Linked DNA regions of Homo sapiens: regions 2, 3 and 4 are each reported to be linked to region 1. Evidence: microRNA targets listed by miRTarBase, many of them from high-throughput screens and not tested one by one. Region 1 holds a microRNA gene; each other region holds the end of a gene's coding sequence.

Evidence for each region. The annotated mature microRNA hsa-miR-3163 reads UAUAAAAUGAGGGCAGUAAGAC and lies in region 1 at 4,248-4,269, opposite strand. An mRNA with a match to its seed (bases 2 to 7 or 8) in the 3' UTR can be bound and repressed. Matches are read on the target gene's strand: a 7mer-m8 pairs with bases 2 to 8, a 7mer-A1 pairs with bases 2 to 7 and ends in A, and an 8mer does both.
Region 2: the mRNA of STX7 is a reported target of hsa-miR-3163. Seed matches in the 3' UTR shown: 8mer at 5,215-5,222 and 7mer-m8 at 612-618.
Region 3: the mRNA of ZNF680 is a reported target of hsa-miR-3163. Seed matches in the 3' UTR shown: 8mer at 4,911-4,918.
Region 4: the mRNA of PPIL4 is a reported target of hsa-miR-3163. Seed matches in the 3' UTR shown: 7mer-m8 at 6,156-6,162 and 8mer at 5,852-5,859.

Annotation. Positions count from the first base shown.
Region 1 is chr11:66,930,229-66,938,219 of GRCh38, forward strand. MIR3163 (microRNA 3163) reads right to left here and starts at 4,278; the gene lies at 4,206-4,278. The region is part of intron 3 of PC (pyruvate carboxylase); the gene reads right to left.
Region 2 is chr6:132,454,433-132,462,423 of GRCh38, forward strand. STX7 (syntaxin 7) reads right to left here. Exons shown (of 10, transcript NM_003569.3): 10 at 1-6,418. The coding sequence ends at 6,326. Among named protein-coding and RNA genes, the nearest start is that of STX7, 55 kb to the right of the region's middle.
Region 3 is chr7:64,514,993-64,522,983 of GRCh38, forward strand. ZNF680 (zinc finger protein 680) reads right to left here. Exons shown (of 4, transcript NM_178558.5): 4 at 4,886-7,508. The coding sequence ends at 6,169. Among named protein-coding and RNA genes, the nearest start is that of ZNF680, 44 kb to the right of the region's middle.
Region 4 is chr6:149,499,091-149,507,081 of GRCh38, forward strand. PPIL4 (peptidylprolyl isomerase like 4) reads right to left here. Exons shown (of 13, transcript NM_139126.4): 13 at 5,405-6,614. The coding sequence ends at 6,363. Among named protein-coding and RNA genes, the nearest start is that of ZC3H12D, 18 kb to the left of the region's middle.

The sequences.
Region 1 (7,991 bases):
ACAAAACAGCCCTCACACAGACTTGCAGTCCAAAGTTGTACTACCTGGGCGATCAGAAAATACTCAGTGCTCCTACTGATGGCAGGAGAAGGGCAAATTAGTTTTCAAAACCTCAAATCTTTGGTTTCGGATAACCTAGAAGAGTTAGACATGCCAGCAACTCCACTCCTAGTTTATACCCCACAGAAATTCTTGCTCATGTGTTCCAGGAGCCATATGTAAGAATGTTCCTGCTGGACGTGGTGGCTCATGCCTGTAATCCCAGCACTTTGGGAGCCTGAGGCAGGCGGATCACCTGAGTTCAGGAGTTCAAGACCAGCCTGGCCAACATGGCGAAACCCTGTCTCTATTAAAGATACAAAAATTGGTTGGGCATGGTGGCACACCCCTGTAATCCCAGCTACTTGGGAGGTTGAGACAGGAGAATCATTTGAACTCGGGAGTCAGAGGTTGTAGTGAGCCAAGATCACACCACTGCACTTCAGCCTGGGCGACAGAGCAAGACTCTGTCTTAAAAAAAAAAAAAAAAAAAAAAAAGTTCCCAGCAGGGTTATTCCTGAGAGAGGAAAAAAAACAAAAGGCAGACCAAGGCCTTCTTGGCAACAGGGCAACAGAAAGGATCAACACACTGTGGATATTCATTCAATGGAAAGCTCTACGGCAGTGAACATGAACAGAGCCATGTGCATCCACATGGACGAATCACAAATGTAATGCTGAGCAAGTCACAGAAATCTACTGTAGGATTCCATGTCCAGGTGTTCAAAACCAGGCAAAATTCAACAATAAGTTATTCAGAGGTTGGCTATCGGTGGGAAAACTAACAAGAACAAGAGAATAAATATCACAAAATTCAGAATAGCTGGGGTGCCAGGTGTGGTGGCTTACATCTGTCATCCCAGCACTTTGGGAGGCTGAGGTGGGCGGATCACCTGAGGTCAGGGGTTCAAGACCAGCCTGGCCAACATGGTGAAACTTCGTCTCTACTAAAAATACAAAAATTAGCCGGGCATGGTGGCACACACCTGTAGTCCCAGCTACTCAGGAGGCTGAGGCAGGAGAATCACTTGAACCCAGGAGGCAGGGGTTGCAGTGGGCCGAGATGGCACCACTGCACTCCACCCTGGACAGCAGAGTGGCAAGATTCCATCTCAAGAAAAAAAAAAAAAAAAAAAAAAGGAATAGCTGAGGGAAGGGACTTCAACCGGGGAGGGAACATAGGGGGCTTATATGGTCCTAACCTTAACCTAGGGATGGGAACATAGATGTTCATTTTACTATTTTGTTTTAACATACTCATATGTTTTAAACATGTCTTCTGTTAAGTGTGGGATTTTGCAATAAACAAATGGCAAAATGAAGAAAAAAAAACATGCAATGGCACACAGAGTACTGCAGACTTTTTATTTGTGCTGACATCGGACGATTTCCAAGATACACTGATAAATGAAAAGGGCATGGAGCAGAAAGGGCACAGGAGAAACAAACAATAGATATATGTTTCTGTAGCCGGGCGCAGTGGCTCACGCCTGTAATCCCAGCACTTTGGGAGGCCAAGGCAGGTGGATCACAAGATCAGGAGATAGAGACCATCCTGGCTAACACGGTGAAACCCCATCTCTACTAAAAATACAAAAAACATTAGCCGGGCATAGTGGCAGTTGCCTGTAGTCCCAGCTACTCAGGAGGCTGAGGCAGGAGAATGGCGTGAACCCGGGAGGCGGAGCTTGCAGTGAGACAAGATCACGCCACTGCACTCCAGCCTGGGCGACAGAGCGAGACTCTGTCTCAAAAAAAAAAAAAAAAGAAAAAGAAAAAGAAAAAAGGAAATATGTTTCTATTTCAAAGGGCAGACCACCTCCAAGAGGACAGACAAGATAATTTAACCGGAAGTGGCCTCCTGGGAGGGGACTGGGTTACTGGGGAGAGAGGAAAAAGGAGACTCATACATTTCAATGTTTGTACAAGGTGCAAGTATTACATAGCTAAACTGAATACCTTTTTTTTTAAGTTAAACACTAACTCTTTGGATTACCGCTTGGTAACCTGCTAGAAGACTATTAGGTTCAACAGTAGCATCTCTGAGGAGTTACCTAGGTCATACCTGGGCTTCCTTGGCCCCATCAGTAACTGTTACATGAGACCTGTTTTCAGCATGGAAGGCACTCTACCATCTCAAATGATTTCAATGGGAGGGTAGAACTCCAGCCCATTCAAGCCCAGGGTTCCACAGAGACCCCTTGGTTGGACTCTGTCAATGACTAAACCCTTGGGCTTACGCTGCTGGGCTAGCTGATGTGGGACAAAAATCTCGCAGATGCAGTGGCCGAAATGTCCTTTCGGGGCCATAAATCTGCTAGGAATGGCTGCATTTGCCCTTTAGCCCAGAAGTATCCTTAATCTGGCCCTGGGGGGAAAGCCTCTTTAAACTGTGTGTTCTCTCCAGCTGGAGAAGCTAGCCATCGGGGAAAGAAAACTGATTCAGAACTGCAAAAGCAATAAAGAAAGAAGCCAGATACAGGACCAGACACAGATCTTTTCTTGGAAGGTAAATCATACCATCCCTTATCTTGTGAATTTAGTCTCAATTATGTCCCCTGTTGGCAGCAAATGCCCTGTCTTTTCTGCACACCAAAACCCATTCCAAAGTCCCAGCACCAGGAACTATGAATATCAAGAAGTAGTTGGGAGAAAAACAGAAACAAGTGTTCTTAATTCATATTTTGTGTCTGCTAGGAGAATCCTTCGTCTAAAATACCTCTTCCACCATGCACCTAAAAAATCCAACGGAAAACCTCAACCTCTTAACTCTAACACCTACAAATACTTTGTTTTGATCAGTGTAAATCTGTTTGCTAGGAGGCAGTTTCAGCTTCCACCTATCCCGCCCTGGAAGCAAGGCGAAAGCTCCAAGTACCCTGAAGGTGTCTCTCTCCTGACAGCTCTTCCAGAGGCCTCAGCCCTTCAGCCCAGGCTCACCAAGCAGTAGGCAGCCTACCACAGATGAGATGCAACTGTCTCACCCAGAAACCGTCAGATGAGGAGAAATGGGAGGCACTAAGAGGCAAGAACTGGGGAAAATCAGCTCAAGAATCTTCAGGCCCTACCAGCCCTTTCTCCTCTCTGGGTAACATTTTCTCCGGGTAAGTCTCAACGCTTATTGCTCTGGTCTCAAGCTATCTCAATTTTCTCAGGAAATGCTGAGTTGGGCTTAAAAGCCCACCATCCCGAAAGATGGTGCCCTGTCCCAATTCCCTATTTCTTTTCTATTTGTCTCTCCACTTTTCCCCGACCTCAGGTCTTGGAGTCAGCTCCCTTTAGCTAAATAAATGGGGTGGCTTTTTCCATCCTGCATTTCAAGATGAAGATTGAGCTGCAATTTAGAGCTCTCCAATCCCTCCCTCCACTTGGCCCCATGACAACTTTTCTTCTGTGACACTTTATATTTGCCACCTCCTTCCCATTGCAACCACTTCCCTAACCTCCACTTGCATCATTCCGGAATGTCTGAGTTACATTCCCTGCTGAGCTAGTCCCCACCCAACCTCTGCCTCTCCCCATTCCCAGGCAGCCACCCACTCCGCCCAGAGGTTTTCCAAAAATCCCATTCACCTCTGGGTAGTCCTGGCTCAAGCATCTCAGGGGCTTCTTATTGTCTCAAATCCCAACACGCAGCTGGGGTTCACAGAATGAACTTCCAGCCCTAATGCTCACTACGCCCCACCAGCACACTCCAACATTGCTTCCCAAGTGCTAGGCCCTGAGGATTCCACAGTGATCAATGCAGGCACAACCTCCACCCTTGCCGGCTTCCCACTGCCTTCCTCCACGCCAGCGAGGCTGGGGCATCACCCTCTGTCTCATCACCTGGCCTCACTCCCATTGCCACTGTCCGGGGGCACCCGCCTCCTACGAACTCAAATATCACACATGCGAGGACCAGCTCCTCCACCCACCTGAGAGAGTCCCCTCATCTTGCAGGGCCTCGGATTCACATATTCTACCCTCAAGGGGTTCACTTCTAACTGTTCATCACTGGTCCCATTAACAGAGCCACCATTACGGTGTGTCCAAGTGTCAGGCACATGACTGTGTGATTTCATTTGTTTATGTGTTATTTCATTTGTACAGAATGAACGTGTGTTATTTCATTTGTACAAAAGTTATTGCATTTGATCTCTACCCAACAGCCCCCACTGGTTGGTTTCCTCATCTATAAAATGGGGGTAGTAAGACAAGGAAGGAAGGTCTTACTGCCCTCATTTTATAGATGAGGAAACCAAGGCTTGAAGAAGCTAAGGAACTTGCTGATCAGGGCTAAGCCTGAACTCCATCCTGTCCGCCTGACTCCAGGGTCCATGCTCTCAACTCTGCTATGCCACTCCCCGGTAATTCCCTATGTGTGTTTTGTTTTTGTTTTTGAGATACAGTCTCACTCTGTTGCCCAGGCTGGGGTGCAATGGCACGATCTTGGCTCACTGCAACCTCTACCTCCTGGGTTCAAGTGATTTTCCTACCTCAGCCTCCCACCACACCCAGCTAATTTTTTGTATTTTAGTAGAGATGAGGTTTCACCATGTTGGTCAGGCTGGTCTCGAACTCTTGACCTCAGGTGATCCACCCGCCTCGGCCTCCCAAAGTGCTGGGATTACAGGTGTGAACAACCGCGCCCAGCCCCCTGTGTATGTTTATGCATTTAGCATCTCACCTGGCACAGAAGCAGGATCAATGAGGTCATTACTACTCTTCCACGCTAGCCAGTCACTATGCAAGCATGTATTTTGTCCAGCACGTGCATTCCCTCTCTCCCAACCACGGATAAACAACTCAGGGCAAGGCCACCTTGTCAGATCCTCCTGTGGCCTCACAGCATCCAGTAAGGAGCTGTGCATAGCACAGATGCACAGTAAATGCTGAAGGAAAGAACCATTTCTTGGAGTACTGCCCAGTAATAACTTGTCCTCCTTAAGCCACTCAGTCAACTGAGAAAACGCAGGATTAGAAAATGGGGCATTCATTCTGCTAGATACTGATTGCCACGTAAGAATATCAGAAGTATAAATGGACAGAAAGATGGCTCAGGTCAGCAAAAACACAAATAGCTATTTTGCAACCAGTTGGAATGGGGCAGTCAAAAGCCAGGAGGGCTGAAGAAAACCTTACAGTCTTACTGAAACAGCCTTGGGCAACATGGCAGGGAGAAGAGCCCTGCCTTAGATGGAGGTAGACTCCCAGTTGGCCACAAGCCATGCGACAACAAATGGCTCTTATGATAAAAGCTGCAAACGTCCATGAAGTGATAACTTCAGAAGGAAAGGGGAGGGTCTCAGGTTGGTCTTTTCAGCCCTGTGCACTGTAACACCCTGCCACACCATATTGCAACATCCTGTGGAACGGCAGCATATTCTGAGAACCTCAGGCCAGAATCTGGTTTGCTGCTGTCAGAGCTTGGCTATAACTCTTCCTAGTGAAGCTGAGAGAGACACTGAACCTCTCTGAACCTCGGGTCTGTCATCCATAAGCAGCAAAACCACAACCATAACCAGTTCCAGGGAAAACTGGTTGATAAAATAAAACTAGCCAAGTGCTGTAGCTCATGCCTGTAATCCCAGCACTTCAGGAGGCCGAGGCAGGAGGATCGCTTGAGCTCAGAAGTTTGAGACCAGCCTGGGCAACACAGTCTTTACAAAAAATACAAAAACTAGCCAGGCATGGTGGCACATGCCTGTAGTCCCAGCTACTCAGGAGGCTCAGGTGGGAGGATCATTTGAGCCTTGGAAGTTGAGGCTGCAGTGAGCTGTGATTGCACCACTGCACTCCAGCATGAGTGACAGAGTGAGACCCTGTCTCAAAAAAAAAAAAAAAAAAAATCAGCTGGGTGTGGTGGCACATGCCTGTAGTCTCAGCTACTTGGGAGGCTGAGGTGGGAGCATTGCTTGAGCCCAGGAGGTGGAGGCTACAGTGAGCTTGGATGGTGCCACTGTACTCCAGCCTCGTGACAGAGCAAGACCCTGTCACACACACACACAAAAAAAAGGTGGGGGGGGAGAGAAAAAAAGAAAAAAATGAAATAAAAAAACTATAAAGTGCTACACACACATAAGGGATATTATCAAGAACAGAACATCAGCAGTCAGCTCCATATGGTGTCCTGGAGTAACACTAGTTGAGATTAGACCCCAGTATTTGCTGACGTCTTGATGGTTAATGGGCAGGGGAGAGGCCACCAATATTGTTATTGGCAATTGCTCTATTTTTCTTGAGGTAAAGGGTAAATTCCCCTTTGTGAGCAAAACATCTTTTTCTGTATTGTAATTCCATTCTGCTATCTCCAAGCATTCAGTAAAATGTTGTGAAATGCCTGACAGGTCGTTTGTGTATTTAAGGCAATATGGTATGAAGGGTGAAGCAACAGCCCTGAGGCAGGGAGAACTAGGCAACATACAGAAGAGAACAGCTGGCCAAGGAAATAACCAAGCCAGACAGATGACATTCATTTAACCTATGTTTTTCACTCCCTAACTATGTTCCAAACTTGGTGGAACACATAAGCATCCCTGGGTATTTGTAGAAAAACTTGGGGAAGGGAACTCTATAAAAGATAGGTCTTCTTTTTTTTTTAAGATGGAGTCTTGCTCTGTCACCCAGGCTCCCAGGCTGGAATGCAGTGGCGCGATCTTGGCTCACTGCAACCTCCGCCTCCCAAGTTCAAGCAACGATTCTCGTGCCTCAGCCCCCTAAGTAGCTGGGACTACAGGTATGCACCACCACGCCTGGCTAATTTTTGTATTTTTGGTAGAGATGGGGGTTTCGCCATGTTGGTCAGGCTGGTCTCGAACTTCTGACCTCAAATGATCCACCCGTCTGGGCCTCCCAAAGTGCTGGGATTACAGGTGTAAGCCACTGTGCCCGGCCTAAAGACAGGCCTTCCTACAGGTCAAGGAAGCTTGACTAATTGTTATTAGGGATTAAATTGAAAAACTGTCCCTGAAGACAAAGAGGTCAGGACCATCTAAGACTCAAAAGTCCAATAATTACAGTTGAAGGTTTTGCCTTCAACAGTGTTCATCCCACTATCTCCTGGCTCCCATGATTTCTGAGGAGAAATGAGCTGTTAATCTGATCAAAGATCCTTTGAACAAGATAAGTTGCTCATCTCTTGCTGCTTTCAAGATTCTTTGTCATTTGACACTTTGATTATGAAATATCTAGGTGTGGATCTCTGATATTCATCCTCATTGGAGTTCACTGAGCTTCCTGAGTGGGTAGGTTACTGTTTTTCATCAGCTTGTGGCCATTCTTTCTGACCCTTTCTCTCCTCTCCTTCTGGGACTCTCATGATGCATATGTTGATTTGTGTGACGGTGCACCATGGGTCTCTGAGGCTGTTAATTTTCCTTCATTCTTTTTTCATTAGCCTGAAAAATCTCAAGGTACCATCTTCAAGCTTGCTGATTTTTTTCTGCCTGCTCAAATCTGCTGTTCAGCCTCTAGTGAATTTTTCATGTCAGTAACTACACAGTTCAACTCCAGAATTTCTGGGTTTTTTTTGTTTTTTTTTTTTTTGAGACTGAGTCTTGCTCTGTTGCCTAGGCTGGAGTACAGTGATGCCATCTCAGCTCACTGCAATCTCCACCTCCCAGGTTCAAGCGATTCTCCTGCCTCAGCCTCCTGAGTAGCTGGGACTACAGGTGCGTGCCACCACACTCAGCTAATTTTTTGTATTTTTAGTAGAGACGGGGTTTCACTGTGTTAGCCAGGATGGTCTCGATCTCTCGACCTCGTGATCCACCTGCCTTGGCCTCCCTCTATTTGGTGAGACACTCTTCTCACATTTTCCTTAAGTTCTTTAGACAAATTTAAAATAGTTGATTTAACATCATTGTCTATGAAGTCCAACATCTAGGCTGGAAAAGACTGTGTCTTTCCTGTGTATGAACCATACTTTCTTGTTTCTTTGCATGCCTCATAACTTTTTGTTGAAAACAAGA
Region 2 (7,991 bases), not on the chromosome of region 1:
GTTCACTGTGTGGGAAACAAAGTGAAAGGTACACGAAAGAGGTCTCTGTATTATTTCTTACAACAGCATGTGAATCTAGTTTCTCAAAAGTTTAGTTAAAAATACTAGCATTAAACATATTTTATACTTTATAAAGAATGGGCTCTATTTCAAATGTCCATACCATTCCAAAGGAAAGTATTGGTCACATACTCCATTCTAGATTTAAAGAAAATTTAAAACAACATAGAAAATTTCTAAATGACTAAGAAAAATGTTTGACCACAGATCAGGAAAAGACATAAGGACAATAGGGTAGCCCTAATTTTGAACAAAAAATGTTTGTTTATTGCCTCCAAGATAGAACATGAATTTCTTGAACAAGAAATGTTTATTGCCTCCAAGATAGAACTAACGTGAATGATATATAACTAAGGTTATCTTACTATTAGCAAATTTTGGTATATACCCACTGCAAAATAGTACTTAAATGTTAAAACTATGATAACCTTTATGAGGCTGAACATTAAATCTGGCCCTGGGAAGAGGTTGGATGTGGCCTGAGGCACATTGAAAATGCCTCGAAATGAACTCAAAACGACCACAGTACCTAGGTTTGAGATAAGAATGAAATAAAATATATTCCCCATTAAAATCTTGCTTATTTTTAGAATCATTACTGACAGAAGGATCAGCTTTGATCTGAGAGCTTTTCACCGTCAAGTTTTTAGCTATACAAGTTATTAAAAAAGCAAAAGCTTGCATCTTACTTGGATTAAAAACCTAATTTCTAGAAAACAGGTTCTCTTCTTTCTGGTCTGAGTTTAACATTTCAGATCTCCCATTAAACAACTGATCAAAAAACTTTCAGAGGGCATTAAAAAGTGAAACTAGGTATCAGAAAAATCTTAGTCGAGGCTAAATAACTGCATTTATAAGCTTTCTACCAATGCTATTAGGTGTTGGAGTTAGTAACTACTGCCTAACGATACTTACAGTAAACACTTAAAAATTTGTACTTTGGGTTGGCCAAAGTGGGAATTAATGCCCTTTCAAGTTTATTTAAAGATTCAATTCAGTTCTAGAAAACTCCCTCGTCAACAAGTAGAGGTGTTGTGCGTGTAACGACTGGACAGGAAATCTGGTTTTGCCTTCCACCACTTACATTTTAAGCATAAATGCCATCACTACACAAAACCTACGGGAATCCCACTCTAAGCAATTAAGTGACCAACCTCTTAAAAACTTGCCAGAAGCTACAGTGTCTACAAAAACCTATTTAGTGTGTTATTTAGCTCTATTTCTGCATTTAAAATTAGGATTATTTGGAGAAAAATATTACATAATATTCATGTTAACCAAATGATTACAAAAACAAAGAATTAAAATTGGTGTATTGATATGGTATTTGAATAATGAGAAAATGGGCCAATAGGAAGATTTTCTTCTTTATTCCTATTTGATTTAAAAGAAAAAGATTTGCCAAGGGATGGGTAGGGTTAAATTAAAAACATTTTAAGAAACATTTCTTTATATGGAGCATACTTACTGTTTTTGCTTTGAGTGCATTCTGATGAAATATAGATTCCAAATTCCCCTTGGATCTCACCCTTCTGTCTAGTGCTTTGCCCTCTATTTGGGGCAGTAATTCTATACATATCCTGTAAATGTCTGTCCTGATGATCAGGATGCCCAAGCTCTGAATCCAACTGCTGCCACCAAGAGAACGGCTCCTTTTTGGAGCCATTACACACAGATCATCACTCAAATCAGTAGTTTCTCTTTAGAAAACTAGCAATTTTCTGGTAGTCTGTCAATTAAGAAAAGAAAATGAAATTCAGTTACTTAGTAAGGAAAACTGGATAAACAGGAGGCTGGTCCAAACGGAGATTTATATTTAGACATTCCCTTTCTTCCTTGCCTCATTCCTTTCACACAGCTATTTCCCTTCTTTTAACACACCAAGTTCTTTTTATATGCCAAATAACAAAACATAAACTCCCTGAGGGCAGGAAGCTTATTCTTTTGGTTCACTCTTAGAACACTATGCCCAGGCATGTAGTAGCCTGGCAAAAAGCCGGCCCCAAATAAGTGCCAAATTAAGTATTTATTAAGCAACTACTACGGGAGGGAAGGAAGAAGGGAAGGAAGGAAGGAAACTGTGTTAAGTCCTGGGGCCCCAGAAGCTTAGTATATGTATTTTTTATTTTGGTTGGAAAAAAATGACTTGCTTACCATCTAGAGCCAATGCTTCTAAATTTTTCCATCAAAGAATCTTTAATGAAAGTGAGGAAAATTCTGAGGCTTCCACTTCACGTGGTTTGAACTGTACATCTCAGTGTTTGTTTCACAATTATGCTAGACTGTCAACTCACTTCTCTTTCTAGAATGTCCTCTGCAGTGCAGGTAGACCAGAAACCACACTTCCCACAAACTCCTTCTGTCTCTGGTTCTAAGTTGAGAGTTGACCATGAGAAAAGGAGAGACCATCTTTCCTCAGAGGCCACTGCAGACAGAAGTGTAGGCGGGCAGAGGACATGAGTTTCACAGCAGTTTCAAAATCTCTTGCAAGGCACTGGCTTTGGAGCTATTAACAGCTGACAGCTGGGGACAGCTCCCTGAGACACACTGTCAGTGCTGCACGCCAACAGCACAGCCTTCTGGATGTTCTCAAGAGTCACAGCAGTGCCTGGGCCAGCTCCTGAGATCCACCCACTTTGGGGCCGCAGACACCTTCCTCACCCACCCTTTTGATGTCTAATTCCCTATGTTAAAACACTTTACACTTATAATCCATCAAGTGGTTTCTGTTTTTCTAACTGAATTGTTAAAATATGCAAAATTCACATTAAAGAAGTTTCCTACCTATCTTGTGACCTCAGTGAATGAGATGCTGCTTTATCCAATCTACTGACTTTGGAAAATCCAGCTGAAATGAGGAAAGATAATCGTGCATGTCTGGCAACCAGGTAATTTCTTTCCTATCTTTCATGTCACAGTATTTTGAGGACACAAATTCCTAAATACTCAGAAAAAAATGGTTTTATCTTAATTGATTTATAAATTATGTTAGGGTAGTTGTTAAACAGAATTTTGTCAAAGAAGCAGTACACTGTAACACTTTCAGGCTCCCATTGGTTTAAAATTTGATAAGTGTATTTCTTTGCTGACAAGTCAAACTGTTCAAATGTTATGGAGGACTAAAAAGGCCTGGGATTCACAGGCTCATTTTTTGTTTTAACTGAATCATGAAAATACACAACTTTTTTTTTTCCAGGAAAGACAGATGTTATTTACCACCAATGAATTTTTATCATATTTAAATGAACTTGAAAATGTCATTCAACTCAAATCCCTCAATCAACTTACTTCAGCCCATTCTGAAACTTCATATTGCAGCAAACCAGCCATGTGAAAGAAATAAATTCAATTTTGACTTTCAAAAAAAATAAATGCTGCATAAGTTACCCTTGTGGACCTTAGCTATTAAGGTGGACAATGACTTTATTTTCTTTACGTAAGTTTTATATTTTATTATGACATTCATTTTTTCTACATGAAGACACAAATAAAAATTATACCAACTACATAAACTATTTTGTACTTTCCTTGCTAAACCACAGATGTATTTCATGGAAAGAGGGGCCTTTAAAGGCACTTATTTATCATTGTAGGTGTGTCTAAACAATTGATATTCAAAAACACAACTTTTTGTGTACAAAATTTTACAATTTTTAACAAAAGCAGTGAAGACACTAAATAACCCAGTGGCGACCTCTTCAAAGTGCAGTGTCCTTGGTCACCAATGCAGATGCTACTGGGGCAGCCAGCGGGCTCAGAGGGTCCAACTCCAGACACTGCATCCATGGCTGTCCTAGACTGAGTTGCACTTGTAAAAGAGATGGTCCCACACCTACTAAAAAAACAAGCTACTCTAGTATCAATATGACATCACTCTTTTACCATCAATCATATTGCAAAACCATAGTATTTAACGACCAATAAACAGCCAAATACCTAATGCCACATTGTCGTTCAATTTACCTGGCTGGTTAATATCAGTCTGTGTTTGAGTATTTCTTTTGAGCACACAAAAACAAATGTATAGTCACTTGATGAGGAAATTCTTCACTTTGACTCAAATGGATTCACCATGCTGTCAGTTATGAAAACAACTCTAATTTTAATCTCCACAGGGCAACCTTCACTTTTCACAGCAGTTCTAAAACTGACCTACAGAAAAGTTCAAGATTTTTTAAAAAATTTGGCTACCATACTATGTTTCTTATTTAATTTTCTCTAATCAATACTACTCTTACGTTCCAAATATTTCATGGGAAATTTTTCCCTCAAACTTAATATGTTTCTTAAACAAATTGAAGCCACTAAAGTTCCTGTTTAAACCACTGATAACTGCCCCAGTTAAAATAATAATAATTTAAAATGATTACACTTCAAATAAAGGTACTAAAATCACGCCCCCCAAATTTGTAAGCGCTTTTGTTGTTATTGGGTACTCACTGTGAATAGAAGTAAATGTACTTGACCTGTATGAGAATAAACATTTTATCAAGTACAGCAAAAAAAACGGAACTGATTGTGAAAGCCATGGGGATGGGACTTTAAAACAGCGGTAAGACGCTGGTTTATCACCAGAAACCTCATGTGCCTCTGTGCACTTGAAGTAAAGACCACATTTGAGCAGGCCTGGTGGGCTGGCACAGGCCTCAGAACAGGTGCTGTTTGTGTGAATTCTCCTCCCTGCATTGTCCATTCTGTTCTAGGGCAGTCTGATTCTGGCAACAGGAGTCTCTAAGTTCCAATCACTCACTCACAAAAGAGTTTTCTGTAATCCCTTTTGTGGAAAAAAATGGAGTTTTTCTGATATGCAAAGCAACTTCTACCAGTCTGACAAAGTAGGTAAAATCGATGACACCCTAAAATAAAAACCTGGAGTGAACTGGTGCTCCAGAAAGATGCTGAATGGCCACAGTGCATGTGGTGATGTCTCCATGCTGAGGTTTCAGGCAGCACAGCACTAAGTATCAGGTGACCTGTGGTCCCACCAGAGCATAGTCCTCATGAAATAGGCCTAACCAGATACCTTTTAACTCATCTTTATTTTGGTTGCAAAGATGTGGTTTACTTAGCTACTTACTATTTGTTCCCATTTGAAGTCTCAGAGCTTGCCAAGTTAAACACCGCCTTCAGTACCGAGCTGCTATACAAGAACATTATAAAATACAAAGTATAAACTAAGATAATCCTCTTTACAGAATTCAGATTAGTGCATTAAAACAACATTGATTTAAAAAGGGAAGTGAGATAACTGGCAAACCTCCAATTGCTTTTTTAATGAAGGATGACACAAAATGGCACGCAAGGTAAACACTAAATTTTGTCAGGTGCTCAAAAACAGTTAATTGTGGGAAAGTTACTTTCCAAAAGTAATTTTGACCTAAAAATATTAACCATTATTCTATAAGACATAAGGGAAGGTAAATAATGGCCCACAAAACCAGATGATATGGTTAAGATAACTAGTTTAGTGGAATAACAAACTGGGGTCTTAAGAATCCAAACGCAATAGGTATTGGTATTGGTTGTTCATACTCTTCTTCCAAATTATGTTAAACATTTTTAGTAACTACACTTTCCCCCGTAAACATCAGACTTAAATAGACCATATGTAAAAACAACCTATCCTTAGTAATTTTACTAGGCAATCTACAGCAAAAGCTTAATATATACACAGAAAGAGTATCAAATAAACTAGAAAAGTATTCACCGACTTCAGGGTAAAAAAGATCTTAAAAGAAAACCAACAAAAAAATGAAAGACACTTTGTGCTGTTGTGAACCAGAAAAATACAACCCATGTATAGACCTTAATTATTTTACATTATTGAGAATATTTTCCCTGCTGAAGCAAATCAAAATTAAATTTGAGAATTTTAATTGAAGTAACACACATCTAGGTGTGTCACAGTGACAGGGAGATGCAAACAGAATACACACACCTTTAAATTTACGAATTCCCAAAACTAAGTCAAGCAGGGTAAATAAATTATAAATGAAAGGCATATGCAATGTGGGCAAAAACTTAACAACTATTAAATTGAAGACCAAGGGAGTTATGTCAGCAGTGACATTTAGAAAATCTTTCAGTATTAGAAAATATCAGATTTAATCCAAAGGAACCACCCCAACCCCCCCAATAAAAATAACAAAGTATGGGAACCATCCTTTATACAATAGCTTTAAAATAATAATTAAAAAAACATGATTACAGGAATCTTCCTACATAATTTAGACAATGTAGTGCGACAGTGTGCTCCTTTATAACTTCAGTGGTTCAATCCCCATATGATGAGACTGATAATCGCAACTCCAATGACAAGGATAAGAATGATGATGCACAGGGTTTTTCTGGATTTGCGCTGCAGACGCAAAAAACAAAACAAAACAAAAAAACATGTTTACAGATTTAGTGGAGTACCTCTACAGCAACTAAAAATAATTTGGTTCATTTCTAGAGTAAAATCAGTAGTAGTATATTGCCCTCAAATTTTTGACTGTGTTTTTTTGTTCCTCAAAAATCTCTTTAATACATATGGCACTATTCTTTCAAAAAAATTCTTGAACTAATGCTACAATTAAGGGAGCAATTTTTCAACTTTCATTGGTAATTTTTCTAAGGGTGTGGCTGACCTTAAGAAAGAAGACACCACTAAATAAGTTACTGACTTAAACAAGAGACTGAGGTTACCTATGAATAAAAATAAAGAACAGCTTACGAGCTTAAACATTCTTTACCTTTTATTAAAGTTTTTCTTAAAAATGAGTTCTCTGAAGATATCAGTAAGTACAAATTGGCAACTTTTCTTCACATATATTTCTTTTCTTTTTTTTTTGAGATGGAGTCTTGCTCTGTCACCCAGGCTGGAGTGCAGTGGCACAATCTTGGCTCACTGCAATCTCTACCTACCAGGTTCAAGAGATTCTCCTGCCTCAGCCTCCCAAGTAGCTGGGATTACAGGCGCGTGCCACCACACCCAGCTAATTTTTTTTTTGTATTTTTAGTAGAGACGGAGTTTCACCATGTTGGCCAGGATGGTCCCATTCTCCTCACCTCATGATCTGCCCACTTCGGCCTCCCACAGTGCTGGGATTACAGGCGTGAGCCACCACGCCCAGCCCCTCACACATATTTCTTGTTTCCAAAATACAATGATTTTGGAATGAGTTTCCAAAATCATTCTCATTCTTTAATATTAATGGGAAACTACATTCAAAATCTCAACAAACAAAACCACAGAGCAAACAAAATCATAATGCTGTCATTGAAAACCGAATGGTTAAGAATTTTGTTCCGTTCTTCATTCCTGGTTCAGTTGTAGATTTCTTTAATGGCGTTTGTACCTCACATCAACATGCAGGAATCCTTTTTCTTACAAAGTAGAAAAATTTGTAAATTTACTTTGTGTCAAGTAGAAGTACCAAAATATTTATAAAAAGATACATTTCTGAGTCTGAAATTACACTGAAAACCATAAATAGTTTGAATATTCCACATATTCATCTAATTTTTCCAGTGAATACTCCTTACGTATCAAACACAATTTCTCTAAAATTTCAATACCATGCATAAATATTTTTCCCAGACTCCAGTTGGTTACCACAAACACACATGTAATGTACCTGTGAGTCATCACGGGTATCCCACAATGGTGTGTTTGTTGCCTGGGGTACTCCCCCTAGCGTGGGGTAATGAGACCCTGGGGCAATGTGGTGATAAGTGAACTTGAATTTCTCACCTTCCTTATTCTTAGGGTTCACCCAAACATATCAAGGCTTCCAAACAGAACTATTGGAAAGCTGCCTCTTTTCTCAGCACTTGTGCTGCATGGCCATCTCGTCCCGCTTCGGGAGCTGGGGGAATTAAGCCTAGGGGCAGCTTCCAGTCCTGGGGTGTAGCTTGGGACATGTGCTTTTTCCTGTAGGCTTGGCCTT
Region 3 (7,991 bases), not on the chromosome of region 1:
AGATCGCGCCATTGCACTCCAGCCTGGGCAACAAGAGCAAAACTCTGTCACACACACACACACACACACACACACACACACAGACACACCCACACACAAATTGCTAATCTTTATTTTGCTTTTCAAAGTAAGTAAGAATTTCTTAAAACCTTTTAACAAGCAAGGTACACTCCTGTAAATAAAATTTAAAATGCATTTCTTTCTCTCAGCCTAGCTCCTCTAAAATCTAAAAACTAGTTAAATTATTCTTGACTTACAACAATATAGTTGTTTGCATCAGTGCAACACACACACATACACACACACATAAATGTGCACCTCTTCCAAAAACCCTTAAACTAGCACCCCCCCCTAAAAAATCCTAGCTACTGTTCCCTACACAATGCCCCTTTCAAGCAAAAAGCAGTCCAAAAAAATCCAATGCCTAATCTCTATAAAAATAGTTAGGGTTTCCACTCCTGAGTGGAGACTGAAAGAAGTTTGCTTGCCTTAGGTAAATAGCAACAGAAAGGTCTCTGAAAAGTCCCCAGCCCATGAGTCATTGCCTCCACCCCATATAATGTAAAATGCAGCCTGGAAAAAAAAATTCAAGCTGCAGGCACCAATAAAAAAACAGGCACAAAGTATTGTGCCTAAAAACATGCCCACAACTGCACAAATAAAAAAACCCTCCAGCCTATTTACATAAAAACTTGCACAAACCTCTAGCTCACTCAAATAAAAAACAAGGCCTGGTATAAAATGCCTTTATCCTTTATATAATCAGAGGGCTCCACAAAAAGTTTCTTCTCCTTTTGTGGGCATAAACACAGTGGGCTCCAGTGGGCACTCACCTTTATTTAAACTATACAGCGGCTCCTATAAATCATCATTTCAGACCCTAATTGGTCCCAGGCCAAGGTCCCAGGCCAAGCTTTCACTTCAGCTTCTAATAGGTCCTGGGCCAAGCTAAGCAGCATCTATATATCATCATTTCAGCTTCTAATTGGTCCTGGGCCAAGATCTCAGCCCAAGCTTTCTAATTAGTCCCAGGCCAAGCTAAGTCACAAGATCTCCAAAACAGCCCACAAACTAAGCACATTTCTTTTTATTCCTAGTCCATAATAACCCTGAACCCCAGCCTCACAGGGGGAACTCCTACTCAGAAACCCCTCTCTGCTAGCAAAAAGCTTTCTTCTTTTGCTTATTAAACTTTCACTCCAACCTCACTTTTGTGTTCGTACTTTTTAATTTTCATAAAAATAAAACAAAAAACTCTAAGTGTTATCTCAAACAAAAGAAAACCTGTTAAATCTTGTTGCATTGCTAAAACTACATAGAACTACTCTAGGAATATACCAGGAAAGGCAGGATAATTCACAGTCCCTTTAAAGGAAGCAAATAGCTCCTGTAGGACCTGGGAGACAGCCCAAATATTCTGAGTGCCCAAACTGTAAAAATGGAAAATGGGGCTTTATAAGCTCCCAAATTTATAAAACAATAACTATTAGACCTAAGAAATTAAATAGACAGAAACATAATAATAGTGGGGGACTTCAATACTCCACTGACAGTACTAGACAGGTCATCAAGATAGAAAGTCAATAAAGAAAAAACGGATTTAAACTACACCCTGGAACAAATGGGCTTAACAGCTGTTTACAGAACATTCTAGCCAAAAACCACAAACTATGCATTTTATTAATCAGGACGTGAAACTTTCTCCAAGACAGAACATATGATAGGCCAAAAAACAAGTCTCAATAAATTTAAGAAAATTGAAATGATATCAAGTACTTTCTCTGACCACAGTGGAATAAAATTGAAAGTTAACAACAAAAACCTTTAAAACCATTCAAATACATGGAAATTAAATAAACTGCTTCTGAATGATCATTGGGTCAGCAATAAAATCAAGACAAAAAATATTTAAAAATTTTAATGGAATGATATAGTGACAAAACCTATCAAAACCTCTGAGATACAGCAAAGGCCGTGCTAAGAGGAAAGTCCATAGCTTTAAATGTCTACATCAAAAAGTCTGAAAGAGCACAATATACTAAGGTCACACCTCAAGGAACTAGAGAAACAAGAACAAACCAAACCCAAACCCAGCAGAAGAAAGGAAACAACCTAGCTCAGTGCAGAACTAAATAAGATTAAAAAGAAAAAAAGACAAATGAAACATAAACCTGGTTTTTTAAAGGATAAATAACATTGATGGACCATTAGCAAGATTAAGAAAAAAAGAGAGAATATTCAATTAAGCTTAATTAGAAACAAAACAGGAAATATTACAACTGACATCACAGAAATACAAAAGATCATTCAAGGCTACTATGAACACCTTTACACACATAAACACAAAAATCTAGAGGAGATAAATTAATTCCTGCAAATGTACAACCCTCCTAGCTTAAATCGGGAAAAATCAGAAACCCTGAACAGACCAATAACAAGCAGTGAGATTAAAATCGTAATTTAAAAAATTAACAACAAAAGAAGTCCAAGACCAGACAGACTCACAGCAGAATTCTACCCAACATTAAAAGGAAAATTGGTACCAATCCTATTGACACTATTCCACACGACACGGTAAGAGGGAACCTCCATAATTCATTGTATGAAGCCAGCATCACCCTAATACCAAAACCAGAAAAGGACATAGCCAAAAAAGAAGACTACAGACTGACCTAATGAACACAGAGGCTAAAATCCTTTAAAAAAAAAAATCTAACTGAATCCAACAACATATCAAAAAGGTAATCCACTATGATCAAGTGGGTTTTGTATCAGGGATGCAGGGATGATTTAACATATACAAGTCAATAAATGTGATACACCAATAAACAGAATTATGAACAATGATCATCTCAATAAACACAGAAAAAGCATTTGACACAATCCGGCATTCCTTTATAATTAAAACCCTCAGCAAAATCTGCATACAAAGGACATATCTCAATGTAATAAAAGCCATCTATGTCAAACACACAGCCTACATAACACTGAACAGGGTAAAGTTGAAAGCATTCTCTCTGAAAACAGGAACAACACCAGGATGTGTACTTTCACCATTTTTATTTAACATAGCACTGAAGTCCTAGCCAGAGCACTCAAATAGGAGAAAGAAATAAAGGGCATCCAAAGAGGAATTTAAGCTGTCACTATTTGTTGATGATATGATTGTATACCTAAAGAACCATAAAGACTCCTCCAAAAATCTCCCAGAACTGACAAGTGAATTCAGCAAAATTTCTAGATACAAAATTTATGTACACAAATCAGTCACTCTGCTATACACCAACAGTGACTGGGTTGAGAATTAAATCAAGAATGCAACTTTTTTTTACAATAGCTGGAAAAAAAATACTTAAAAATATACCTAAACAATGACATGAAAGACCTCTACAAGGAAAACCACAAAACACTGCTAAAAGAAATCACGGACGACACAAACGAATGGAAACACATCCCATACTCATGGATTGGTAGAATCACTATTGTGAAAATGACTACATTGCCAAAAGCAATCTAGAAATACAATGTAGCTCCCATCAAAATAGCAACATCATTCTTCACAGAATGAGAAAAGACAATCCTAAAGTTTACATAACTTTATACTATAAAGCCATAGTCACAAAAACAGCATGGTACTGATATAAAAATAGGCATATAGACCAATGGAACAGAATAGAGAACCCAGAAATAAAACCAAATACTTACAGCCAACAGATTTTTGACAAAGCAAACAAAAACATGAAGTGGGGAAAGGAAACCCTATTGAACAAATAATGGAGGGATGTTTAGCAAGCCACATGTAGAAGAATAAAACTGGAAACTCATCTCACAACTTATACAAAAATAAACTCAAGATAGACATAAGACATAAATCTAAGACCTAAAACAGTAAAAATTCTAGAAGATAACATTGGAAAAACGTTTCTAGACATTTGCTTAGGCAAAGACTTCATGAATAAGAACCCAAAAGTAAATGCAACGAAAACAAATATAAACAGATGGGGCTTAATTAAACTACAAAGCTTCTGCAGAGCAAAAATAATCAGCAGAGTTAACAGACAACCCACAGAGTGAGATAAAATATTCACAATCTATACATCTGTCAAAGGACTAAGATCCAGAATCTACAAAAAACTCATATAAACCAGCAAGAAATAAAAACAATCTCATTTAAAAGTAGGCTAAGGATATGAATAGACAATTCTCAAAAGAAGATATACGAATGGCCAAGAAACATATGGAAACTTGCTCAACATCTCTAATTATCAGAGTAATGCAAATGAAAATCACAATATGATACCACCTCACTCCTGCAAGAATGGCCATAATTAAAAAATAAAAAAATATAGTGTTGGTGGGGATGTGGTGCAAAGGGAACAATTTTACACTTCTGGTGTGAATGTAAATTAGCACCATTATGAAAAATAGTGTGGAGATTTTTTTAAAGAACTAAAAGTTGATCTATCATTTGATCTAGCAATCCCACTACTGGGTATCTATCCAGAGGAAAAAAAGGCATTATATGAAAAAAGATACTTGCACACACGTTTATAGTCTATGTGCCTATTTGTATACCAGCACCATGCTGTTTCGATGACTAAAGCTTTATAGTATAGTTTAAAGTCAGGTAATGTGATGCCTCCAGATTTGTTCTTTTCTCTTACTCTTGCTTTTGCTATGTGGAATCTAAAAGAAAATTTTATTATTTTTGATCACATCAGTTAATCTGGAGGACAGCATATTAGTTGAAATAAGCCAGGCACAGAAAGATTAACATCTCATGACCAAATAACATATTGTTACTCTCTTTTACCTCCCTCCTTGAGTAAAGTGAAAAAGGTTAAAGTTAATGGCATAATAACGCTTCATTGAATGCACAATAGTCTTAACATGTTAAAGAAATGTTTAATTATAAAATTAAGCTTATACATAATCTAAAAATTTTCAAATGTACTGCATTTATAGCATAAAAGTACAATTAGTAAAATGATTCACTAGTAATTTAATTACATTTAATTTAAAGTAAAATTAAAAATGCTTTTCTCTATGATGCAGAATATTACTCCAAACACCTACCTCATGCATCACTCAATATGAAAAGTAAACTAACAGGGCCTCTCCACTTAGATTTTCATCATAAACCTTACATTTTAATGCCCATACTCTTCCACAGAAAAAACCATAAATAATGCCCATCTAATAAAAAAGAATCTCTCCTATATCTGACACAGCAACAATTTATCACATGCTTTCACATGTGAATACAATAGGAATGAAATAAAGTAATTTGAGAGTTGAATTTCATCATTATTTACTTTTCAAATAAGCCATAATTTTTTCAAGAAAAAAAGTATACTTTCAATGTAATTATAACTCTCCAAAGAATCTTCTACTCCTTTTAAAGTTATTTACAAATAATCTAACAACTTATAGATTTTTTTATACTCAACACTCTGTTTTAGTGTAATGTCTAAAGTGTCAGTGCCTTAGTTATTTCTACTGTAAATTATTTAATATTTACATAGACTCAATTTTGGATTAAATATTTTTCATACTTACTGCATCTGCAAAAACACATTTCAATATAAATTCATGTTTTCTACGCCGTAGTTTTTGAAAAAAAATGTTTTTCCAAATTCATTACATTTGCAGGATTTTTCTCCAATATAAATTCCCTGATGTTGAACAAAGTTTGAGCAACTGCTTCAGTGTTTTTCTCTAGTACAAAATGCGTACAATAAGATTTGTAATACAAGTAAAGGTACTACAACCCTCCTATGCTCCTTATATTTGTTATGTTTGTCTTCAAAATAAACACGCTTCTTCACTTTAAAGTGTTATGTTTTCTGAAATTTCTTTTGACAGTAATTGCATTTATAATGCTTTTAATAAGTATAAACTCTGGTGTTGAGTAAGATGTGAAAAGATATCAATGACTTTTTCACATTCTTTATACTTGTACAATCTTTCTCAAGTAAAAATGCTTTCCTGTGCAATAAGATGTGAGTATTGGTTAAGTTTTGTCACATTCTTTACACTTATAAAGTTTTCTCCAATATAAATTATCTTACCTACAAGCAAGTGTAACAATCATTGGAAGGCTTTGTCAAATTCTTCACATTTTTAGGGTTTCTCAACAGGATGGTGTCTTTTATGTTTAGAAAAGTTTTAGGTGTTATCAAAATTATTGTCACATTTTTCAGGTTTGTAGAGTTTCTCACCAGTATGAATTTTCTTATGTCTAGTAAGGTGTGAGGACCGGTTAAAAGCTTTGCCACATTCTTCACATTTGTAGGGTTTCTCTCTAGCATGAATTCTCTTATGATTAGCAAGAGTTGCAGGCCAGTTAAAAACATTGCCACATTCATCACATTTGTAGGATTTCTCTCCAGTATGAATTACTTTATGGTTAGTAAGGGTTGAAAATAAAGTAAAGCCTTTGCCACATTCTTCACATTTGTAGGTATTCTCTCTAGTGTGAATTCTCTTATGTCGAGTAAGGCTGGAGCACCCATTAAAAGCTTTGCCACATTCTTCACATTTGTAGGGTTTCTCTCCAGTATGAATTCTCATATGTTCAGTAAGGTTTGAGGACTGTATAAAAGCTTTGCCGCATTCTTCACATTTGTAGGATTTCTCTCCAGTATGAATTTTCTTATGTCTAGTAAGGTTTGCAAACTGGTTAAAAGCTTTGCCACATTCTTCACATTTGTAGGGTTTCTCTCCAGTATGAATTTTCTTATGTTTAGTAAGGTTTGAAAACTGGTTAAAGTCTTTGCCACATTCTTCACATTTGAAGGGTTTCTCTCCAGTATGAATTCTCTTATGGTTAGTAAGGGTTGCAAACCAGTTAAAGGCTTTGTGACATTCATCACATTTGTAAGGTTTGTCTCCAGTATGAATTATCTTATGTTTACTAAGGATTGAGAATAAACTAAAGGCTTTGCCACATTCTTCACATTTGAAGGGTTTCTCTTCAATATGAATTTTCTTATGTTTAATAAGGGTTGAGGATTGGTTAAAGGCTTTGCCACATTCCTCACATTTGTAGGGTTTCTCTCCCATATGAATTCCCTTATGTTTAATAAGCTCTGAGAACCAGTTAAGAACTTTGCCACATTCCTCACATTTGTAAGAATTCTCTCTAGTGTGAATTCTTATATGTTGTGTTAGATGTGAAAGCATGCAAAATGATTTGCCACATTCTTTACATTTGAAAACCTTCTTTCCAGTATTTCTTTTCTTATGACTGTTTGAATTTGAAAATTTATGAAAGACTTTCACGTATTTATCACATTGAAATATTTTGCTCTGGGTAGTTCTCAAACATTGGTTAAGTTCATTATAACCTTCTTTGAACACCTTAGACTCATCCACACTTTTACAACTTATTCTTAATTGTAAATTCTCATGTCCACATTTTCCATATCCTCTCAGTATCACTTTTTGAAAAGAATCTTTTATGCTATGCTCTGGCCAAAGGTCTTCAGTGAAATGAGAATATATAACTGAAAGACATAAAAGTAACAAATTACACCACTTCCTAGACTCAGATGAATATATTTTACATATCAAATTTATAAAATTACACAAACTACATAAGCAAAATACAAAAATAAATAACTAAAAAATCCTAAAAGTTAAAAAAAAAAAAAGTTATGTACAAATGAAGAAGCTCAACAAATTAGGATACACACAATGATATTTATAACAAACACATATATAAACACAATTTCAAAAGTCACAGACAAGAAGAGAATCTTGTGAGTTGCAGTATAAAAATGATATGTCATTTACAAGCATAGTCTTTTTAAATAACCAGTGAATTTGTCAAGAAAATTTTGCAGGCAAGAAAAGAAGTGTGTGATATAGTCAAAGTCATGAAAAAAATAGATATCAAATGAGAATAATACCATCAGCAAATCTGTCCTACAAAATGGAAAAAAAAAAGAAAAAACTTCCAAAATAACCAAATTCTGAAAAAGTATATT
Region 4 (7,991 bases), not on the chromosome of region 1:
ACCTACCAGAATGCCTAAAATAAAACACAGAGACACAACTAAATGTTGTTGAGAATGCGGATGAAGTGGATCGCCCATATGTTCTTGGTGGGAATGTAAAGCAGTCTGACTCACCCAGGAAAACAGTTCAGCAGTTTCTTTAAATATGCAATTATCATATGACCTAACAACTGCACTACTGGGCAGTTATCCAGAAGAAATGAAGACTGTGTTCACAAAGAAACTAACAGCAGCTTTACTCATTACGGTCCCAAACTGTAAACAACCCAGATGTCCTTCAATGGGTGAATGGTTAAACAAACTACAGTATATTCATACCATGAAATACTACTCAACAATAAAAGTGAACTATTGGCCAGGTACAGTGGCTCACACCTGTAATCCTAGCACTTTGGGAGGCTGAGGCGGGTGGATCACCTGAGGTCAGGAGTTCGAGACCAGCCTGGCCAACATGGCGACACTCCGTCTCTACTAAAAATACAAAAATTAGCCAGGCATAGTGGTGTGCGCCTGTAATCCCAGCTACTAGGGAGACCGAGGCAGAAGAATTGCTTGAACCCAGGAGGCAGAGGCTGCAGTGAGCTGAGATGGCGCCACTGCACTCCAGCCTGGGCAACGAGACTCCATCCCAAATAAATAAATAAAACAAAATAAAATAAAAGTGAACTATTGATACAGCAACAAACTGGAAGAATCTCTGAAGAATAAGGCTGACTGGGGCAAAACAAACCCAATCCCAAAAAGGGATTTGGTTTATAATCCTGTAAGACACAATCTCGAACACCTTAATCCTGAATGGTGAAATCCCAAAAGATCAAAATGCCTAATCTAAAATCCATAATGTCTAAAATCCCAAAAATCACAATCAGAGGATACTGGCATCATGATAGGTAGAACTACAACTTTCTCATTGTCTTTATTTGGAAATTAAGTACGGTTTAAGGAGGTATGTATGGGTGCTGAGTTGATAAGAGGTGTTCTTTGGGACTTAATTTTAGGTGTCAAGTTGATTGGATTAAGGAACACCTAGAAACTTATTAGTGTTTTGAGTGTGTCTGTGCAAGTGTTTCCAGAGATTAGCATCTGAGTGAAGCCAGTGGAAGACACTGGTTGTTCTTAAAGTATTTCAAATGACTGCAGTTATAAAGCTGAGCATACACAATTACCAACCACAGGGCTATGCATTGATACATTTCCCTTTTTGACCTATTTCTTTATAAATACCACTCATCTGTTCATAACTGTCATACCCATGTGACTGTCATTAGTAGAGCTGAGAACTGCTTATGCTTGCAAACATACGTATGTTATTGTTGCCTATTTTATTGTGTAAAGTGGCCTGTGTTTGTATTTCTCAAATCCTCTTTTAAAAATGTGAATAATCAGCCAGGTGCAGTGGCTCATGCCTGTAATCCCAGCACTTTGGGAGGCTGAAGCAGGCAGATCACGAGGTCAGGAGATCGAGACCATCCTGGCTAACACAGTGAAACCCCGTCTCTACTAAAAATACAAAAAAAATTAGCTGGGCATGGTGGCGGGTGCCTGTAGTCCCAGCTACTCGGGAGGCTGAGGCAGGAGAATGGCGTGAACCCGGGAGGCAGAGCTTGCAGTGAGCCAAGATCGTGCCACTGCACTCCAGCCTGGGTGACAGAGCAAGACTCCATCTCAAAAAAAAAAAAAAAAAAAAAAAAGTTAATAACCTGAAGTCAGGGGTTTGAGACCAGCCTGGCCAACATGGTGAAACCCCATCTCTACTAAAAATACAAAAATTAGCCGGGCATGGTGGCGCACACCTGTAGTCCCAGCTACTTGGGAGGCTGAGGCAGGAGAATCACTCGAACCTGGGAGGTAGATGTTGCAGTGAGCTGAGACTGTGCCACTGCACTACAGCCTGGGCAACAGAGTAAGACTCCATCTCAAAACAAACAAACAAACAAAATGTAAATAAATATCTTTTAAAGGTTTTTAAAATTATTCTTTCCAGAATTACATATTTGGGATTATGATTATCAGGGTTTCAACCTTCATGATCATGGCATTTGGGATTATGTATTTCCGGATTATGAGTGGCTCCCCAAAAGGCTACATAATACAGAATTCCACTTATATAAAATCCTTGAAATGACATAATTATAGGAATGGAGAACATATCAGTGGTTGACAGAGGTGAAGGAGAAAACAGAAGTGGCAGGGAAGTAGACGTGGCTATAAAAGGACAGCAAGAGGGGTCCTTGTAGTGATGGAAATTTTCTGTATCTCCACTGTGTCCATGTCAGCATCTTGGTTGTGATACCATACTAGAATCTTACAAGATGGTATCACTGGAAGAAACTAGGCAAAGGGTACACAGGTTCTCTCTGTATTATTTCTTATGATTGCATGCCAATCTACAACTGATTTCAAAATTGAAAGTTTAACCACAGCAAAAAAGCAATCAGAAAGAAAAGTCACATTATATCCAAAAGAATGACATTTGGAATGACAAAAGATTTCTCCCCAGTAGTAACAAAAGTAAAAAGATAGTAGACTAATTCTTCAAAGTACTGGGGGAAAAAAAGACACACCTCAACTTAGAATTATGTACATATAAAATCAACTTTATAGAATGAATTGAAAATACTTTTGATAAATGTAAACTAAGAGTTTGCCATCAACAGATGTCACTAGAGGAACATCAAAAGATGTGCTTCAGAAAGAAGGAAAATTATCCTAGGTGAAAGGTCTGAGATGTGAGAATAATAATGAATAAACAAACACTTCTAACATATAAAGTAAATCTAAACCAACAATTATCTGTACAAAAACAGTAATAATCACAAGGTCTAATTTTTTTTCTAACAGATGGTGTCTCACTATGTTGCCCAGGCTGGAGTACAGAGGCTAGTCACAGGCACAATCGCAGTGCACTGCAGCCTCTAACTCCTGGCCTCAAGGGATCCTCCGGCCTCAGCCATTCAGGAGCCAGAACTACAGGTGTGCACCACTGAGTCCAGCTCAAGGTCTAATTTTAAGGTGAAAAATCACAAGCTATAACTAAAATACTGAATGATTTTAACACGAAAGTTGCAAGAGGGGTGACTTGGAGAGTTCCAAGACTCTCAATTAGAGAGGAAGATAAAGATATAACATTATACTTTTTAAGTACGGATGTAATATTCCAAGGAAATTCCCCCAAAACAAAGAAGAGGGGGCAGAGGGGTGAGGGTGGAATTAAAAAACATTTTTGATTCCAAAAGAAAAAAAAAGAGTGGAAGAAAAAAACATAAAAAGCACAAAATAAGGTGGTAAGGAATAAATGCAAATACATCAGTACACATAAAAATGCACTCAACTAACCAGTTAAAGTTCAGATTAGATTTAAAAATAATTGGCCGGGTGCAGTGGCTCATACCTGTAACCCCAGCACTTTGGGAGGCTGAGGTGGGCAGATCAGAAGGTCAGGAGTTCCAGACCAGCCTGGCCAATATGGTGAAAACCCTGTTACTAAAAAAAAGAAAAAAAAATTAGCCAGGCCTGGTGGCAAGCACCTGTAGTCCCAGCTACTCAGGAGGCTGAGGCAGTAGAATCGCTTGAACCCAGGAGGTGGAGGTTGCAGTAAGCTGAGATTGCGCCACTGCACTCCAGCCTGGGTGACAGAGTGAGACTCCGTCTCAAAATAGTAATAATAATCATCATCATCATCATCTAGCTATATGCTGTTTATGAGACACACTAAAACATAAGGACATTCATCAACAAAGCAGGATAGAAAAATCTAGCTAAACTATGCGCAATGCTATCAAAAAATAAAAACGTCAATGAAAACAAATTCCCAGAAAAATGTAATAAAAATGACTAACATTAAAGAAATAGAAAGGCTAATAATTCTATAATTTTTGAAACCTAATCAATAGTTAAGAAATTTTCTCACAAAAAAATGCAAAGTTCAGACAATTTTATAGGCAAGCTCTATCCAGCTTTTAAGGAACAGATTAATTTAAATGTTTTTCTTTTCTTCCAAGAGAACAGACAGAGGGAAGGAGAGAGAGACAGCACTCCTTAACTTATTCTTAGTATCCACAATCTATTAAGTATAAAAAGACAACAATCTACTACTATATAAATGGGCAAAAGACATGAAACAAGCTTTTCAGAGAGCAATAAGGAATGAATAATAAACATGGGAAAAGATGCTCAGCCTCATTAACATTTAGGAAATACAAAGTTAACTTCCACTCTAGTCAAAATGGAGTAGCAGAGGCACGATTTACCTTCTCCACCTTAAATTAAAACCTATATAAAATGTATACAAGGAAGTTTTTCAGATGTTAGACAAAAGCCAGTGCAGGACAGTGACTCCTGAGAGATGGAAAACAAAGAAAGCCCTATAATTGCGCAAGCTTCTACATGGGGTTTCTAAGCTGTGGCACTAAGGCTAGGGAAGGGAACCTCCCTGGGTAGAGAATTTAGGGGAGCCAAGGTAAGATTTGCAGGGCAGAATATTGGGTTTCCCTTAAGTCTTCAGCTAAACACCAAGCAGTGTATGCATGTGAGGTAAGGAACAGGAGATACAACTGGGAGCTCAATAGGGTTCAGAATATTTCATGTTCCCAACAGACAGAATGCAGAAACCGTGTAACCAGGAAGATTATTCAGAACGGTATTACCTTCGTAGTGGGTCAAATTAGCCCTAAACTAAAGGCTGTCCCAGTCCTGTCTTATTAAGCTTAAAAGCAAGCTATAAAATGATCGGATTGTTTCCAAGTAACTTTATGTCCCCAAACAGAGTTCAAGATACTTAAAAGAACTCCAGCACCCAATATTAAAAACAGAAATTACCAGGCATGTAATGAAGGAAGTTACAATCCAATATGGGCAGGGTGGGGGTTGGGGTAGGGTGGGAATCAATCAATAGAAACAGACCAGAAATGATGCAGATGACAGAATGGGCAAGCACACTGAAAGAGCTATTATCAATACACTCCAGATGTTGAAAAAAAAAAAAATAGAGGAAGGCATGAGCATGTGAAGGAGACACATGGGAGATAAAGACCCAGACAGAAATTCTAAAGACTAAAAATATGTCGGAGGTGAAAAATACCTGGATACGATTAAAAGGAAATTAGATACTTTAGACAGAAAGATTAATAAACAATGAGGACACAGCACTGGAAAGTACCCAACATGAAACACAGAGAGAAAAAGGCTTTTTAAAAAGCTGCACAGAATCAGCACACTGGGAGAAAATTCTGAGGGGCCTAACGTACATCCAAGTCATCAGAGCCCCAGGAGAAGCATGAGAGGAGCAGAGAGAAAACCATAACAGAAGAAAAAATGCCCCCCAATTTCCAAATTCTATGAAAACCATAAACCCACAGGTAAAATAGCTGCAGCAGCAGAAACGTGAAAAAAAAACTACAGCAAGCACATCATAATCAAACTTCTTACAACCAGTGACAGAAAACCTTAAAAGCAGCCAGGAAAAAAATGACATCTTACACATGGAAGAGCAGAGATAACAGTAATCTTGCTGGAAATCACAGGTAGATACCACTTAACATCCACTAGGTTGGCAAATTTTTAAGTCTGAACTTAAGTGTTGGAGATGCTATGAAACAAAGGTAACTCACAGTGCCAAGAGAGGTATAAACTAGTACAGTCACTTCAGAACACAAATTTGGCATTATTTTATCAATATATCAAGCAATATAACTGCTAGATACAATGTTCACAGCAGCATTGTTTCAACAGCAAAAACAAATAAACAAAACTCAAATGTCCATCAAGAATGAATAAGTTGTAGTATATTTATATAATACTATATAGCAATAAAAATGAAAGAAAGTCACAGAAGTAAACATTTTGCCATTTATATAAAATTCAGAAACATACAAAATTAACATTTCACTTACAGATACATACGTATGTTGTAAAACTATAATAGACAAATGACAAACACAAAATTCCAAATAATTATTTGAGAGGGAGAGGGCCTTAGGGAACTTCTAAAATGTCGACAACATCTGTATCTTAAGCTGGCTGATGAGTACACAGATATTTACATTTATTATCCCTTTATATATACGTTTATGTATTTTTGTAGTATGAAATACTTCATTAAAAAAAGAGTGAAAATGTAAGACTTCAAAAATGAAGACTACCATTTATGTATAACAATAAAATTAGTGTAAAAAAGTATACAAAGAAAATGTTCAATTCTTTATCTTTCCGTGCTCTATATAATCAGTATTAATCTAAAGACCATAATCCTAGTATGAAAAAAATAACAAGCTTTGACACAAAATCTAAGCATCTGCTTTCCTGGCACTCTTAAGTTAGACAAGAGTAAATATGTTAGCCTCTCAATTCTGCCTCTTCATCTTTCATCTATACTTAGATTTTTCTTTATCTTTGGACTTCTTTGGACTTCTGCTTCGGTCTCTCTTTTTACTCCTTTCTCTTTCATAAAGATCTGTTTGGTATTTTGATTTATGACTATTACTATAATGGCCATCCCTCTCTCGAGATCGGCTACGACTTCGGTTCTGAGTTCGGTCTCTCTTTTCACTCTTTTGTTTCTCCCAACAGCTTTCTTCTTCTTCATAGTGACCAAACCCCATTTCTCTATAGATATCCTGTCAAAGGAAGGGGGAATTACAAGTGAATCAGTAAAATAATCATTTTGTGGGCATTTTCAATTAATAAAACTTAGAAAAGTCTACCATTAGAAGGCTGTTATAACAGCTTAAATGTGAACACTACCACTAATGTCAAGAATCTTGTAAATTACAAAGCAATAAAATAATTCAGAAAAAGGTTTAACAACGTCATTGATTTGTATCTACTATTTTGGCTGAAACGAAGGATCAGCTTCAAAAATATGGAACTGAAATAGCTCAACTGAAATCAGAACATGTCTCTAGAGCAATCTGCAAAATCAAAAATTCTGATTATGTATAGTCTTATTCCCAGCTCCCCACCCTTCACTCCCCCAAAACGTGGTCCCATTATTGATCTGCAATGAAACTACTAAAATTCCCATAAGAATCCTATAAGAAGATATCATTGAAATAACTTAGCAGGAAGAGATCTTAGACAAGTCAGTAAGTCTTAAATAAGAAAATGGAGGCTGGATGCGGTGGCTCACGTCTGTAATCCCAGCACTTTGGGAGGTTGAGGTGGATGGATCACCTGAGGTCAGGAGTTCAAGACCAGCCTGACCAACATGGAGAAACTCTACTAAAAATACAAAATTAGCCAGGTGTGGGGACGCATGCCTGTAATCCCAGCTACTCGGGAGGCTGAGGCAGGAGAATTGCTTGAACCTGGGAGGCAGAGGTTGCGGTGAGCCAAGATTGCCCCACTGCACTCCAGCCTGGGCAACAAGAGCGAAACTCCATCTCGAAAAAAGAAAATGGATAATGTATACTTGGGTCTGAGCAATTAATTTTTAAAGTGTTTTATTTTATAACAGCTCCTCTCTAGATGTTCAAATACATCTTCCATGTTTAGAAAGACAGAAGTTAGAGAGGAGAATTTTTTTTGAGACAAGGTCTTGCTGTCTCCCAGGCAGGAATGCAGTGGCACGATCATGGCTCACTGTAGCTTCAACCTCCCAGGCTCAACCGATCCTTCCCACCTCAGTCTCCTAAGTAGCTGAGACCACAGGCATGTGCCATCACACCTGGCTAATTTTTGTATTTTTTTGTAGAGACGGGGTTTCCCCATGTTGCCCAGGGTGGTCTCAAACTCCTGGGTTCAAGTGATCCCCTCCCACCTCGGCCTCCCAAAGTACTGGGATTACAGGCATGAGCCACCTCACTCAGCTGATTAGGCTTATGTCAAAATTATTATATTTCTTTAAAATGAGTTTTTAAACACTGGTAGAATCCTTTGCCCCAAAGATAATAAAATTGCTACATTTAATTCTACTCTTAGACCACAGCCAATGCTCTTTCAAGAGATACTTTGTAAAATTTAACTTTCTTAAGACTGCCCAAAGGAAAGGAAAA